Regions from separate parts of the Homo sapiens genome. Here all the other regions are reported to be linked to region 1. Evidence: microRNA targets listed by miRTarBase, many of them from high-throughput screens and not tested one by one. Region 1 holds a microRNA gene; each other region holds the end of a gene's coding sequence.

Region 1 (5,077 bases):
GTAATATTTGTTGCCATTGAGTCTGAAGAAATGTTTGCAATTCCAAATATAACTGCTGTGTGGATACATGTCTGGTTCTTGGTAGCCATTTTGAGATAACATTTGTCTGACCTCTATCTTATTTTTGTTTTTATTTTTAGAGTGGAGGTCTTGCCCAGGCTGGTCTCGAACTCCTGGGCTCAAGCAATCTTTCTGCCTCCGCCTCCCAAAGTGCTGGGATTACAGGCATAAGCCACCTTACCCAGCCTTGTCTGACCTTTAAACAGAAATCCATTTCTTTTTATCTAAAAGGAAAGCACTTTTGAGTACTGTACAACAGTGGTGCTTCCTGGCTCTGGGCATGGGGAGAAGACAGGGCAACATTTTGTCCCTAATGAGAAACTAATTTAGACAAGAAACAAAACAGCGGTCCCTTCTCCCCCATCCATTCAGGGACTGGTCTTATTTTAAATATTTCTGAGTGGTCTGAGGGAGGATATGGGCAATATTGAAGTGTCCACATTTATACATACTGTTAAATGCTTTGGGGATGTGAAATGCTAATAGGAACACGCTAGCATGTGAGAAGGCACCAGGAGTGGGCTAATTGGCAGAAAGGAACAGTGTATAGGCAAGAGCAGTGAAATAACTTTAGGGGAAAATAGTATGTTAAGCTTATTAAATAACAGCCTCATAGAGACATTGGGTCCCAAAACAGTGATCTCAGTATAACTGTCAACAACTTGCTGATGTTATCAGCCCTATTTGCTGGTCAGAGACAAAAAAGCCAGTAAAAACCTAGGTATTATTAAGAAAGGTATGAGGCACAGAAAAATGCCATCTTATCTTTGTATAAAACCATCTGAACCAAATAACTATTACAGTAATAATCTTGCCTCAAGGAGTCTGTTACTATCACTCACATGATTTTGAAAAGGGAGTGGGCAGAGTGTGTTATCTCTCTGTTTCATTTTTCTTGTTTATAATACATAGGTGAATTAGATATTCTCAAAGGTCTTGGAGGGGTCTAATTCTGGTTTCCTGAAACTGAATGTTATTTCTAGTTTAGAGAATCTGTTTAATTATGTTTATTAAATAAACTTTTCTAACTTATTCCTACTCTGATCTGTATATTATCTATTTTGTATTTAATAACATTCTAACTTTTTTTTTCCAGTGAAGGATGAGGATTATTGGATTTAGAAGTGCCAAATGAGCTATTACTTACTGCTTTTTGCTATCCGGTTACACTGGGTTAATCCAGTTAGTTGTAAGCTCCCATTTTTCAGCATTTTGCTAGCTGTAGATATTAAACCAGGCTCATGTGGGTAGTAGGGTGGGGAGGTTAAGAGGAGTATAAGCAAAAAGGAAAAAAAAAAGCTCATATTTTAGAGGAGGGGATTGAGAAGTTCCTTTATTGGAAGTCTGTGCATGGAAGTCCCATTTTACATCATGCCAGTGTCTAGTTCCCAATTCCGTCTATGGCCACGGGTTAGGGAAAGCCTGAATATTTGAAATAACCGAAAAGCATTTAACCTTTGATTTCTATAATTTGTTCCTCACCTCTCTTGATGTTACAGCCAGCAGCAGCCTGGAGCAGCACCCCCTGGGAAGAAATTTTACATCGGCCATTATAATACAACCTGATAAGTGTTATAGCACTTATCAGATTGTATTGTAATTGTCTGTGTATATGCCTGTCTCTCTTCCTGTTATCAGTTAGACTGTGAGCTCCTTGAGGGCAAGGAAGGTGTCTTCATCTCCAGAGCCCAGCCTGGCACATTAGTAGGCCTCAGTAAATGTTTATTAGATGAATAAATGAATGACTCATCAGCAAACATTTATTGTGTGCCTGCTAAAGTGAGCTCCACAGGCTCTGGATTGTCAGCTGTTTCTTCAAAAAGCATGTGGTCAGAAATTTGATATTTCTGTATATATCTTCCTAAGAGTTTCTCATGAGACAATGCCATTTTTGTGTTTGGATTTCAGTCCTTGATATTTACAGATGTTGCAACTGTTGCTATTGCTGACACTTGCTTTCTTGGTGGGACTTGAGTGATAACTGTTAGATTGGGGCCTCATCCTCAGGGCCCAGGTAATCATCCAAATAGTATTCTTAGATAGGACTTTGCATTTTTCTTTCTTTTTTTTTTTTTTTTAAGGGACAGGTTCTCACTCTGTTGCCCAGGCTGGAGTGCAATGGTGCGAACACGGGTCACTGCAGCCTCGAACTCCTAGGCTCAGGTGATCTTCCACCTCAGCATTCTGAGTTAGGACTATAGGTGTGTGCCACCACCCCTGGCTAATGTTTGTATTTTTCGTAGAGAAGGGGTCTCGTTATGGTGCCCAGGCTGTTCTTGAACTCCTGGACTCAAGCGATCTACCTCCCTCAGCCTCCCAGAGTGCTGGGATTACAGGTGTGAGCCACTGCACCCAACCAGACTCCATATTCTAAACCAAGGGTGGGCAAACTTTATTGCCCATGGGCTACCTGTTTTTGTAAATACCATTCTATATTGGAACACAGCCATGTTCATTCATCGATGTTTTACCTGGGGCCGCTTTTGCGGCCCAGTGGCACAATTAAGTAGCTATTAGGTTGGTGCAAAAGTAGTTGCTGTTTTTGCCATTAAATATATTGGAGACATTGTGGCCCACAAAGCCTTTGTAGAAAAAGATCTGTGCCCACTCTGGATCATCACTCGACAGTGATGGTTTCATTTCTCATTCCATTCACCAGACCAGAAATTCATATTTATTTACTTCATTTGTCATTGCTTGTGACAAGTCTTTTTCCTCTTTTACAGATAAGCCAGCTAAGACATGTTTTAAAGTAGAAGATTATAAGACCTCCCCCAGGGTCCTGCAGTCAGTCAGTTATACCCTGCCCTTCAACATCAAGCTTTGAACCTCTACTCTAGAAATACCTTTTATTATATTCAAACTTGAAGCACGTGGACATAGCATGCTTTGGTGCCTTCGTCCTTGCCCCCCTCCTTCCTACACAGTTCTTTGCAATGAGAATATGGGAAATAAGGACTTAATGTGAGATAAGGCAGAAAGGTAAGCTGAGGCAAATGTTTAGAGGGTCCCTAACACTAATTTTTAAATGAAGAAGTGGGGTGTCTGAAATACTCATTTATTTAGATGTATACAGATAGTGAGCCTAGACTTCCAAGAGCTTAGAGCCCCTCCCCTTGTGCCTCCCCAACTTTACATGTACTATCTTGGTAACCTGCCTATGAATACATGTTGATTCATTTCACTTCATTAAAAAGTCGGAGAGCTCAAAGTCATATTTGAGAAAGCTAAATCTAAAACAAAATGGAGGAAACACTGAATAGGTTCATCTCGTTGGATAGGATCATCCTAGGAATAAAATATAATAGAAGGAAAGGTCTTACAGCCATATTTTTAAAGCTGCTTGCTGGATTTTTCCCAAAATTGTATTGTGAAAGTTGTCAAACATACATACAGAAAAGTTGAAAGAATTGTACGGTGAAAAGCCATGTACCCAACACCTAGATTTTATAATTAACATTTAACTATACAGTCATGTGTTGCTTAAAGACAGGATATGTTCTGAGTAATGGATCATTAAGTCATTTTGTTGTTGTGTGAACATCATAGGGGAGTGTACTTATACAAACCTAGATGGTATAGCTTACTACACACCTAGGCTATATGGTATAGCCTATTCCTCCTAGGCTACAAACCTGTACAGCATGTTGCTGTATTGAATACTGTAGGCATTTGGAATACAGTGGTAAGTATTTGTATATCCAAACATATCTAACATAGAAAAGGTACAGTAAAAACGTGGTGTTATTATCTTATGGGACCACCATTGTATATGCGCCTGTGACTGAAATGTTACTATAAGATTCAGGACTGTTTGTGTTATCACAGTAACTCATCTTTGTTGAATAGGTTTTAAAAATCTGTCTGTCTTCTGTGTTAATGTCATCTGTATCTGACCCATCATGGTGCTGAAAAAGCTTCTTTTCATTCTTATTTTTGTCTTCTAAGTCAGCATGAATACCAGCACAGCCCAACTATGTGTAAGCAGATCTGTGCAGGAATGAGAGTCCCAGGGAGAGAATCCACGTTGTTTCTGAAAGAAAATGGCTATAGCTCACTGTTGTTTACTGGAAATAGTAGGGGGAAGGAAAGATGGAAGTCCAGGTCCAGTGTCATATACTGCCCTGCACCTTACTCACTTCTCTGCCTTTAGGGTAGGTGGTTTTCTGAGCAGCTTCTGCTTGGTTCTCTCCTTTAAGGCTTGCTAAAGGAGAAACAACAATGTCATATTGAAATGCCAATGAGGCAATATTTAGCATTAGAATAACTTTGGAATTCTAGCAAATGGAATTTTAATTTGGGCTACTGTCTAATAGTATTCTTTGAGCCTTTTCTGTTAGCAACAGCTGCAGTTTCAATTAGGAAGCACCATGAAATTTTGTTTATCTTTATCCATGGACATGATAATGGTAAATGTTACCTGTTTGTGTCTCTCTCCTTTGATTTAAACTCAAGGGTAGAGATGTGTTTTACTGATCTTTGCAAATCTCTTACACTGTAAGATTTGTATTCATTTATAGGGATATACCCCCAAATATATGTTTAACATTATTTAAAAAAAGATTTAGATATGGGCATATTCACGGTGTTCATAACAGTAAATAATGGAAAAACTTACCTAGTCATGAATAGGAACTTGGTTAAATACATTTTGGTGTATTCATGTAATGGGACAGCATAGCCATTAAAAATAAAAATAGTCTTGAAGATAAATATTTGACTTGGAAAGAAGTATACAGTATATTAATTGAAAAAGGGCTAAAGGGCAATAGTATAGTTTCATCTAATCATTGTAAAATAAGAATTCATGTTTGTGTATGTACATGGAAGTTGTTGGATGAACATACCCCAAGTGTTAAACTTTTCTGGGATTCTGGCTGATTTTTTTTTTTGAGACGGAGTCTTGCTCTGTCGCCAGGCTGGAGTGCAGTGGCGTGATCTCGGCTCACTGCAACCTCCGACTCCCTGGTTCAAGCAATTCTCTTGCTTCAGCCTCCCGAGTGGGATTACAGGCATG
Region 2 (5,077 bases), not on the chromosome of region 1:
TTTGAGGATATTATTCGCATTAATGAACGTTTCACAGTTAGAATAATGAAGGTTATTGATGACAACAGGTCTTTCTCCATAGGACCCTTACTGGGATGTATTCTACAGGTACATACAAAAGAACCTCCCATGTATCTTCTGGTTAAATAATTATAAACCGGAAAATCTACCAAAGAGGCTTTTCTATAGGTACACAGGAAACATTCTCAATGAGAGACCCCTACATGGAGAATCATATGTTGACTATAATTATGCAAATAAAAATGCTACATGATAGGCCTATATGAAACATTTTCTTAGATTCCTGAACATGTATTAACTGTCATCCTGTTATTTTCTATATCAGAAAGATAAGCTCATTGATTTTATCATTGCCTCTTTTTTTTTTTTTTTTTTTTGGTAAGAACATTATTTTTGTTTCACTACAGAGAGGCTCTAACACTGCTGTGTAAACATTACCAACAATAATTATTTATTTTCTATTATGTACCTGTTCATTTCTAAGAGTAATGGACAAAAGAAAAGGCTCTCCTTTGTCCTCCCTCTCTTCCTAATTAAAAGAGCCTTCTGCCCCATGGAAGGCTGGGAGCTAGGAAAAGCAGCATTCTCACAATAGACTGCAATCAGAAGATAGATTTTATGTCAGGTCATCTAGTTACATAGATATTTCCCTGTTGTTATTCCTGAGTCCTTAGTAAAAACCTTAATTAAATGTTCCAGCCTTGTCTCGGCTGTGCTATAGGAGGTAAAGCACAAGTTTATGTCATGATTGGTTCAGTGACAAAAGGGAACAGACTCTTTCCAAGAGCAAACTGGGTGACAAGGATAAACTTAGTGGTCTAGCAGATGTGTTTCAGTGGAGTCTCCCACCGTCCATGGTGAAAGCATGCAGGTTTTATTTTCTCAGGGTAAAAGCTTAGGACAGAATTTCCTGAAGAAAGGTACTTCCACCACATACTTAAGAATCACGTGAGATTAAAAATGCAGAGATCTGAGACCCATCACAGATACAGTGAATCAGAATCTTTGTGGTAGGTGGCAGGAATGGCATTTTTGAAAAGCTGCCCCAAATGATTCTGAAACTAAGGCTTCAGAATCATTGTGAACCATCACTTTATATAGATTGGTTCTCAAAGTGTGCCTGAGGGATCCCTGGAGATTCCCAAGACCCATTCAGGGCACTGTGAAGTCAAAACGTTTTTCATAATCATACTAAGGCATTATTTGCTTCTTTTCATTCTTTCACCAGTATACAGAGGTGTTTTCCAGAGTCTACATGATATGTGACTGCACAACAGACTGAATGTAGAAGACATGAGAACCCATCTATCTTCTTTATGACAGAAAGTAATTCCCCCCAAAAAACCGGCCACTTTTCTCACTAAATCGTTTCATGTTTTATAAGTTATTATTGGCTGGGCACAGTGGCTCACGCCTATAATCCTAGCACTTTGGGAGGCCAAGGCGGGCGGATCACCTGAGGTTACGAGTTAGAGGCCAGCCAGGCCAACATGGCGAAACCCCGTCTCTACTAAAAATACAAAAATTAGCCAGGCGTGGTAGTGGGCGCCTATAATCCCAGCTACTCGGGAGGCTGTGGCAGAAGAATCGCTTGAACCCGGGGGGACAAGTTGCAGTGAGCCAAGATCGCGCCATTGCACTCTAGTCTGGGGGAAAGAGCAAAACTCTATCTCAAAAAAAAAAAAGTTATTATTATTACGGCAGGGTCTTACTCTGTTGCCTAAGCTAGAGTGCAGTGGCGCAATCTCGGCTCACTGCAACCTCTGCCTCCTGAGTTCAAGCAATTCTCCTCCCTCAGCCTCCCTAGTAGCTGAGATTACAGGCATGTGCCACCACACCAGGCTAATTTTTGTATTTTTAGTACAGACATGGTTTCACCACATTGACCAGGCTGGTCTCGAACTCCTGACCTCAGGTGATCTGCCCGCTTTAGTGTCCCAAAGTGCTGGGATTACAGGTGTGAGCTACTGCACTAATTTTTGTAATTTTTATAGATAGAGTTTTGCCTTGTTGCCCAGGCTGGTCTCAAACTCCTGGGCTCAAGTGATCCACCTGTCTTGGCCTCCCAAAGTGCTAGGATTACAGGCGTGAGACACCATGTCCAGCCAGAAGTTATTTTTAAATGAATAATTTTTTTTTTTTGAGAAAGAGTCTCGCTCCGTCACCAGGCTGGAGTGCAGGGGCGCAATCTCGGCTCACTGAAACCTCCACCTCCCGGGTTCAAGCCATTCTCCTCCCTCAGCCTCCCACGTAGCTGGGACTACAGGCGCATGCCACCACACCCAGCTAATTTTTTTTGTATTTTTAGTAGAGACGGGGATTCACCATGTTGGACAGGATGGTCTCAATCACTTGACCTTGTGATCCGCCTGCCTCAGCCTCCCAAAGTGCTGGGATTACAGGCGTAAGCCACCGTGCCTGGCCCATAAATAAATATTTTAAAAATTTAATATTTAATATAATAATATATATAGCTCACATAAACAAATGGTCTTGAGATAAAAATGTTTGAGAGTTGCTGTTTCATAGCAGGCATCTCGCACCCTATGAACATTACTGCTGCTATGGACCACTTAGTTCCTTGGCACACTCAATGCATGCTTCATTTTAAATCTGATTCAATAGATCATTTGCAAAAAAAAATGTTAAACTTATTTTCAGGTATGGGGATTTAATCTGACAGTGAAAAATTGAGGTCTAACTGGATTTAGTTAAAGTCTGAGATATAAAGCCTGTTTTTCTTCGTGATATCAAAATGAAATAATCTTTAAATGTATTCACAAGTTGACTCTGATGTATGAAACAGAAAACCAGCTGGGCACGGTGGTTCACACTTGTAATCCCAGCACTTCAGGAGGCCTAGGCAGGCAGATCCCCTGAGGTCGGGAGTTCGAGACCAGCCTGACCAACATGGTGAAATCCCGTGTCTACTAAAAATGCAAAATTAGCCAAGCATGGTGGCGCATGCCTGTAATCCCAGCTACTTGGGAGGCTGAGCAGGAGAATCTCTTGAACCCGGGAGGTGGAGGTTGTGGTGAGCTGAGATTGCGCCACTGCACTCCAGCCTGGGCAACAAGAGCGAAACTCCATCTCAAACAAACGAAAAAGAAACAGAAAACCATACTTTATATGATGCATTTAAAAAATACTAGTAATGTGACACACACCGGCATTATATTCTAAGTGAGTGGTGGCAAATGAATGGCTAATCCCAAATGTTAGCCAAAAACAAATCCATAATTTTTGAAAGAAAATAAAATGGAAAGGGAATAGGCTTTTTAGAAAGATAATTTTCTTTTATTACATTTTTATAAAGTGTAGAAATGTGAGTAGGCAGATTAATCTTGATACTATACTGAGCTACACAATTTTATTCTTTTATTTTTTAAATTAAAAAAATATATAGACAGGGGTCTCACTCTGTTGATCATTCTGGTTTTAAACTCCTGGCTTCAAGTGATCCTCCCATCTCAGCCTCCCAAAGTGCTGGGATTACAGGCATGAGCCATTGCACCCGGCCACAATTATTTATATTTATTTTACTTTATTTTATTTATTTTTGAGAGGGGGTCTTGCTCTGTCGCCAAGCTGGAGTACAGTTGCTCAATCTCAGCTCACTGCAACCTACACTTGCCAGGTTCAAGAGATTCTCCTGCCTCAGCCTCCCGAGTAGCTGGGACTACAGTTGCGCACCGCCACGCCCAGCTAATTTTTGTATTTTTACTAGAGATGGGGTTTCACCATGTTTGCCAGGATGGTCTCAATCTGTTGACCTCGTGATCTGCCTGTCTCGGCCTCCCGAAGTTCTGGGATTACAGGCATGAACCACTGTACCCGGTCGTATTAGCTATTTAAAAACTCAGACAGCTAACATTTAAATAAATCCCTGCTGTCTGGGAATGATGTCTGAATGAATATTGTGAATACATATGCTAATTTATACCATATTAAGATTCTAAACAATACAGCTATTTAATATATCTTGATAACTGGTATTTGAAAATAAGTCTATTTTTCTGGGTAGTCTTTTGGAGAAAGTGCACTGAATATAGTTTCCAGTCATATGCTACTTTCTTAACTTGTACTTATCTAAACATCTTCTCATCAGGAGAGAGTTCAATAGTACTCGAACCAAAAGTCTAGTGAGTCTGACTTCTCCAATCCCCAATTTTGGTTTGCATGTCCACTTACAACCATCATTTCTCTGCAAATTTTCCACTTAGTCTATCAAAAATCAGTGCTCTGAAAGTTCTCTAAAAGATGCAGTTTTTTGGAGTCTCTGAATGATGACAGCATTCTGTAAATCTGCTTCTTCCAGTGTGAGTGTCTCATCTAGCAACCTGAGGACAGGAAGAGCTGTTGCCAGGGAAAACGGAGGACTTCTTTGAGATCCTTGGTATTTTTCAATGAAGTCTTTGATATGGCTTACTCTGTAAAACAGCAAAAACTATTAATATAATTTTAGGAAAATTTGAATTACCTAATTTATAGTAACAACAACTGGTAAAAGTATCTGGATATGTTATTATTAGAGATAGCGTCTTGCTTTGTCACCCAGGATGCAGTGCAGTGGTGCCATCATAATAACTCCTGGGCTCAACTGATCCTCCTGCCTCAGCCTCCCAAAGTGCTGAGATCACAGGCATGAGCCACAACACCCAGACTCTGGATATGTTAATATATAGAATAACTGAATTTATGATATAACTGATTATTTGGGCTATCTTTTAAAGTTTGACTCCCAGAAATTTGATGACAATACTACTACTACTGTTAATTATCTTAGGTAAGATAATTAGTACTATGAATTACTACTGTTAATTATCTTAGGTAAGACAAAGGAATTATGGCTATGTTTTACAGAGGCTGTCACAATTGTATCATGATCGTCATGTAGCCATGGATTATAGAATGCATCCTCATTTCACAGATGCTAAAATGTGAAAAAATGTGCAACTCAGAATTAATGAAATATGCCTATCACTAAAGAAAGAATTCTCTCATTCAATCAATTCACTAAAATTCACTACGTGCCACTTTATTAAACCTGTAAGGG
Region 3 (5,077 bases), not on the chromosome of region 1:
TCATTAGAGGAAGGAGGTGGCTGCAGGGAAAAAGTTAATGTCAAAGGAGTCTGCTATTTCTTTTCTATTTGAATAGGGTAGGCATATGTACCCTCAATATCTAGGGGGAAGCAGGGAGGGAAGGACTTTTCATTCTTTAGTTGGCACTTGGGATTTGATACCAGATGACTCTTCTTTCCTCAGGTGAAGACAGGCTCACTGCTAAACCAGCCCAAAGCTGTGCTTCAGAAACTGGCTGCTCTCTCTGACCATAACCCCAGTGCTCCTCGAAATTCAAGAAACTTTGTCTTTCATACACTTTCTCCTGTCAAGGCTGAGGCGGCAAAGGAATCGTCTAAGTCTCAGGTATGGAATTTGAGAACTAATATGGTGGCTTCCCAAACCAGAATTTATTCATTTATTTAAATTTAAAAACAAAAATTCTGGCTTAACCTCTATGCTGCAATGTTGAAATCTTGCACTCCCCGATAAGGTACAAGAGAATTGCTACCCCAGTCGGTAATCAACTTTTAAACTTGCCGAGAAAGTTTATCTTTCTTTCTTTTTTTCTGTTGTTAATCATCCACAATTTATGAGTTGCTTGAGAGCTAATTGAAGGTAAATACTTGTATGAAGGTCTTTAGCTGGCCCTGACTCCCTCTCTGCTCTCTAGGTAAAGAAAAGGGGTCCATCTTTCATGACTTCTCCTTCACCTAAGCACCTCAAAACAGATGATAGCACTTCAGGATTGACGCGAAGCATCTTCAAATATTTGGAGAGCTAACACCATCAAAGGTGCCAAAATCTACATTGAGACTGCTTTGAGAAGTTTCTAGCACTGAAAGTTGGAATTGACACTCCAGCCAATGATCCTTCCTTCTTTCATAATCAATGCAATAAGATTGCAGACAGAAATTCCAGTGATTTCTACTGCACAGCTCTGGACATCTCTTTTCCTAGTATTATTCCCTGAATTGGCCACTGATTTCAATTCTGCAGTATTTACAACATCAACAACTCATGGAATACTTGGGTGAGGTTTCCTTTTTTTTTTTTTTTTTAAGATGGGAGTCTCACTCTGTTGCCCAGCTTGGAGTGCAGTGGCGTGATCTCGGCTCACCACAATCTCTGCCTCCCAGGTTCAAGCGATTCTCCTCCTTCAGCCTCCCGAGTAGCTGGGATTACAGGCATGTGCCAATACGCCCAGCTAATTTTTGTATTTTTAGTAGAGACGGGGTTTCACCATGTTGGCCAGGCTGGTCTTGAACTCCTGACCTCAAATGATCCATCCACCTCGGCCCCACAAAGTGCTGGTCACATGCATGAGTCACTGCACCTGGCCTTGGGTTAGGTTTCACTTCCTCCATTAGACATTTGACATTTTATTGTAGCAGCTTTCTGGGTTAATATCTCTTTGTGATTGATAGAAGTGGTTGGAAGAGGAAGAGTAGGGAAAAGTGTGACATTACAGATTAAACAGTGAAAATCAGTACCATAATGACTCCTTTACACCCATGAGATACGTACCATGATGACCAGGGCTCGGTGAAAGAAAGATTTCTTTTTTTTTTTTTGAGATAGTCTCACTTTGTTGCCCAGTCTGGAGTGCAGTGGCGCAATCTCGGCTCACGGCAACCTCTGCCTCCCGGGTTCAAGTGATTCTCCTGTCTCAGCCTCCCAAGTAGCTGGGACTACAGGTGCATGCCACCACACCTGGCTAATTTTTGTATTTTTAGTGGAGACAGGGAGTCACCATGTTGGCCAGGCTGGTCTCGATCTCCTGACCTCAAGTGATCCAGCTGCCTCAGCCTCCCAAAGTGCTGAGATTACAGGCGTGAGCCACTGTGCCCAGCCAAAAGAACGATTTCTTAGATGGAGGACCTAGGAACCAACAGATGGGCTGCTGTATTACTCTTACCCCTTTCATTTTCCTGTATGCTTCTTCCCAAGGCAGCATCAAATTTTGAATTAATTTTTGCTGCTTAATAAGGACTTAAACTGGTACCCAAGTCAGAAAGACTCTGCCTCTAATTTTCTGGGGCTTGGGGATGAAGATAAAGTGTTACACCCAGTGTTTGTCCACCACAGTCTGTGGGGCAGAGAGACCCTTCCTGGGACTGAATTCTCAATTTGAAGCACTGTTGTTCAAAGATCTCCCTTCTGGGTCTGACAAGAAGAAACATAACCCTTATTTATTGCATTCTTCTGGCTTACATACATTGCCCTCACTAATCAATGGACATTTCAGCATTTCATTACTAATTTTGAGAGAAGGCCACCATGGAATTTAATAAAAATATTATTGAAGAGAATTGCCATCATTCTCCATTTTCCCTGAACTACCACAAGCTTCTCAGAATTTTAGACAAATGTTTTTCCCCTCAGAACTGAGCATCAGTGCTGCTTTGGAAAAACATTCCATGTGAATACTGTGGTTTCAGTGTCAGGACCTGTACTTGGGCAGTTGGAAGAGAGTGTGCCAGTTTTTTACTGGGAGATGGGAACACCAATTTAATTGATGCAATTAGGTTGTAGGTTTTTTACAGTTTTTCTTTTCTTTTCTTTTTCTTTTTCTTTTCTTTTCTTTTCTTTTTTTTTTTTTGAGACATAGGCTGGCTCTGTCACCTAGGCTGGAATACAATGGCATGATCTCGGCTTACTGCAACCTCCGCCTCCTAGGTTCAAGCAATTCTGCCTCGGCCTCCCAAATAGCAGGGATTACAGGCACCTGCCACCACTCCCAGCTAATTTTTTGTATTTTTATTAGAGATGAGGTTTCGCCATGTTGGCCAGGCTGGTCTTGAACTCCTGACCTGAGGTGATCCACCCGTCTCGGCCTCCCAAAGTGCTGGGATTATAGGCATGAGCCACCGCACCCGGCCGGTTTTCTACAGTTTTCTAATACTCAAGATGTTGACTTTGACAATACTTATGTTTGTATACTTGTAATCTTATAATGGGGAAAATGTGTATAAAGATGTTTTAATATGTATGTAGTTTTTCAATAAATCTTAATGCCTTGAAGGGAAGATTTGCTGTCCAGCTTGAATGCTCATTCTTGGGTCAGTGCCTGTCTAACCTTGAGGAGCATTTCATTTTCAGGTTATCTCCATCCCAGGGAAACCCTCTGGGTCTAAACTGAGAAGCTGCTGCAATTGTCCCCTCACTGGCTTCTCAGTCCTAGTGAATTGATCAAGTTAACTTACCAAGTGGTTTGGGTTCAGCTCAGGTGAAGAGGATAATTGAGTTTACATAAATGGTACCTTCTATTATAGCTCTTTGTTTAAAAAACTTATTTTTTAGAGACAGTCTCATTCTGTTGCCCAGGTTAGAGTGCAGTGGCACAATCATAGCTCACTGTACCCTTGAACTCCTGGGCTTCAGCATCCTCCTTCCTCAACCTTTGGAATAGCTGGGCCACATTACAGGCATATGCCACCATGCCCAGCTAATTATTTTATTTTAGTAGAGACAGGGTCTTGCTGTGTTGCCCCAGCTGATCTTGAACTCCTGGCCTCAAGTAATCCTCCCACCTTGGCCTCCCAAAATGCTGGGGTCACAGGCTCAGCCACCATGCCCAGCCTGTTACAGCTTTGATTGGCCTTTCTCTTTAGCTAAGTTTGTATGTACTTCATTTTATCCATGGGTTCAAGATACATGTTTTTGCCTCTTTCTTTGAACTCTCTAAACAGTTCCCAAGGCAAAGTAGCCCTTGCTGGGCAAAAGAGAACTGAGCAGGAAGGCTAGATATTTCTTCCCTCTTGTTTCCCTACATGTCTTTTGAGGAGAGATAGAAAAGACAATTGGAATTGACAACTGAGGATAAGAAAATTCAGCCAGGTCCGGTGGCTCACGCCAGCACTTTAGGAGACTGAGGTGGGTGCATTGCTTGAACTCAGGAGTTCGAGACCAGCCTGGGAAACATGGTGAAATCCCAACTCTAAAAAAAAAAAAAAAAAGAAAAAAAAAAGAAAATTAGTGCCTGAGAAATCCAGGGAGAAAATGGTTTCTGGGCTGGGCGTGGTGGCTTATGCCTGTAATCTCAGCACTTTGGGAGGCTGAGGCAGCTGGATCACCTAAGGTCAGGAGTTGGAGACCAGACTGACCAACAAGGTGAAACCCCGTCTCTACTAAAAATACAAAAATCAGCCAGGCTTGGTGGTGGCAGGTGCCTGTAGTCCCAGCTACTTGGGAGGCTGAGACAAGAGAATTGCTTGAACCTGGGAGGCAGAGGTTGCAGTGAGCCGAGATCACGCCACTGCTCTCCAGCATGGGCGACAGAGTGAGACTCCCTCTCAAAAAAAAAAAGAAAGAAAGAAAATGGTTTCTGATTGAGGCTCCTGGGAGAAAGCACTCTTTGGAGAAAGAAAACTTGAGTCAAACTCTGGGTTACTTTTCCTTATGCCAGGATGGCTGCTATAAAGTAAGCTAAGCCTTGATCTTGGTAACAGGATTGACATGGACAGTTTCAATCTGACCCATATGCCCTTTGCCCAAAGCACTGAGCCAGCAGCATCAGTTATGTTTTAATGAAATTGAAGCCCCAGGACCTGCCACTATGGCTCTGAGGAGGACTCAGCTTCACTAGCTTGGAAATTACATATTTGGAGGGATGAGAGCCCATGAGTGTGGGAGATAGGGTAGGCTCAGTGTCAGTGTTTTTGTTTCTTCCTTGTTCCATACACTTGAGTAGGGATACATGGTATTAACCTCTTTAAACAGGTCTCTAATTTCATCTCATTAATTCACAGTTGCACAGCCATACTAGGGTCTCTTCCATAAACCATAAGATTTTATTCACCAAAGCTCTAGAGACAAGGTACTCAGATCTCTGTGGCATCCCTCATTTTCTCAACTGCTTCTCTACAAACTTCTCCTCACTTTGAGAGTTTCTAATGCTCAGGCTGGGAGACTTTTTAGGGGGTGTTTTTGGTTTTTATCTCCTAGGGTTATGTCTAATCACTCTTGTGGCATCCTGTCCTGGGATTTGTGCTCCTAAGGATAGAGGAGAGTATTTCTGGGAGGAGTGTTCCCATGATACTATTTGATTATGTCATCCTTGAGATGGTATTGTATCTTCTACCCTTATATCCTACTC

The links. Region 1 holds the annotated microRNA hsa-miR-545-3p (UCAGCAAACAUUUAUUGUGUGC, at 1,810-1,831, shown strand). A microRNA usually pairs through its seed, bases 2 to 8, with sites in the 3' UTR of a target mRNA and lowers its output. Matches are read on the target gene's strand: a 7mer-m8 pairs with bases 2 to 8, a 7mer-A1 pairs with bases 2 to 7 and ends in A, and an 8mer does both.
Region 2: the mRNA of UBXN2A is a reported target of hsa-miR-545-3p. The part of its 3' UTR that is shown has no 7-base or 8-base seed match.
Region 3: the mRNA of CLSPN is a reported target of hsa-miR-545-3p. Seed matches in the 3' UTR shown: 7mer-m8 at 1,954-1,960 and 7mer-m8 at 3,011-3,017.

The regions. Positions count from the first base shown.
Region 1 is chrX:74,283,880-74,288,956 of GRCh38, reverse strand. It overlaps MIR545 (microRNA 545), which reads left to right and starts at 1,748; the gene lies at 1,748-1,853. The region is part of intron 1 of FTX (FTX transcript, XIST regulator); the gene reads left to right. MIR374A (microRNA 374a) reads left to right here and starts at 1,600; the gene lies at 1,600-1,671. LOC124905199 (a long non-coding RNA gene) reads left to right here. Exons shown (of 2, transcript XR_007068266.1): 2 at 1-1,092. RefSeq lists an enhancer at 4,638-5,077.
Region 2 is chr2:23,999,046-24,004,122 of GRCh38, reverse strand. It overlaps UBXN2A (UBX domain protein 2A), which reads right to left. Exons shown (of 7, transcript NM_181713.4): 7 at 1-4,451. The coding sequence ends at 4,256. Among named protein-coding and RNA genes, the nearest start is that of MFSD2B, 8.5 kb to the left of the region's middle.
Region 3 is chr1:35,732,182-35,737,258 of GRCh38, reverse strand. It overlaps CLSPN (claspin), which reads left to right. Exons shown (of 25, transcript NM_022111.4): 24 at 184-345; 25 at 653-5,077. The coding sequence ends at 763. Among named protein-coding and RNA genes, the nearest start is that of CLSPN-AS1, 4.7 kb to the left of the region's middle.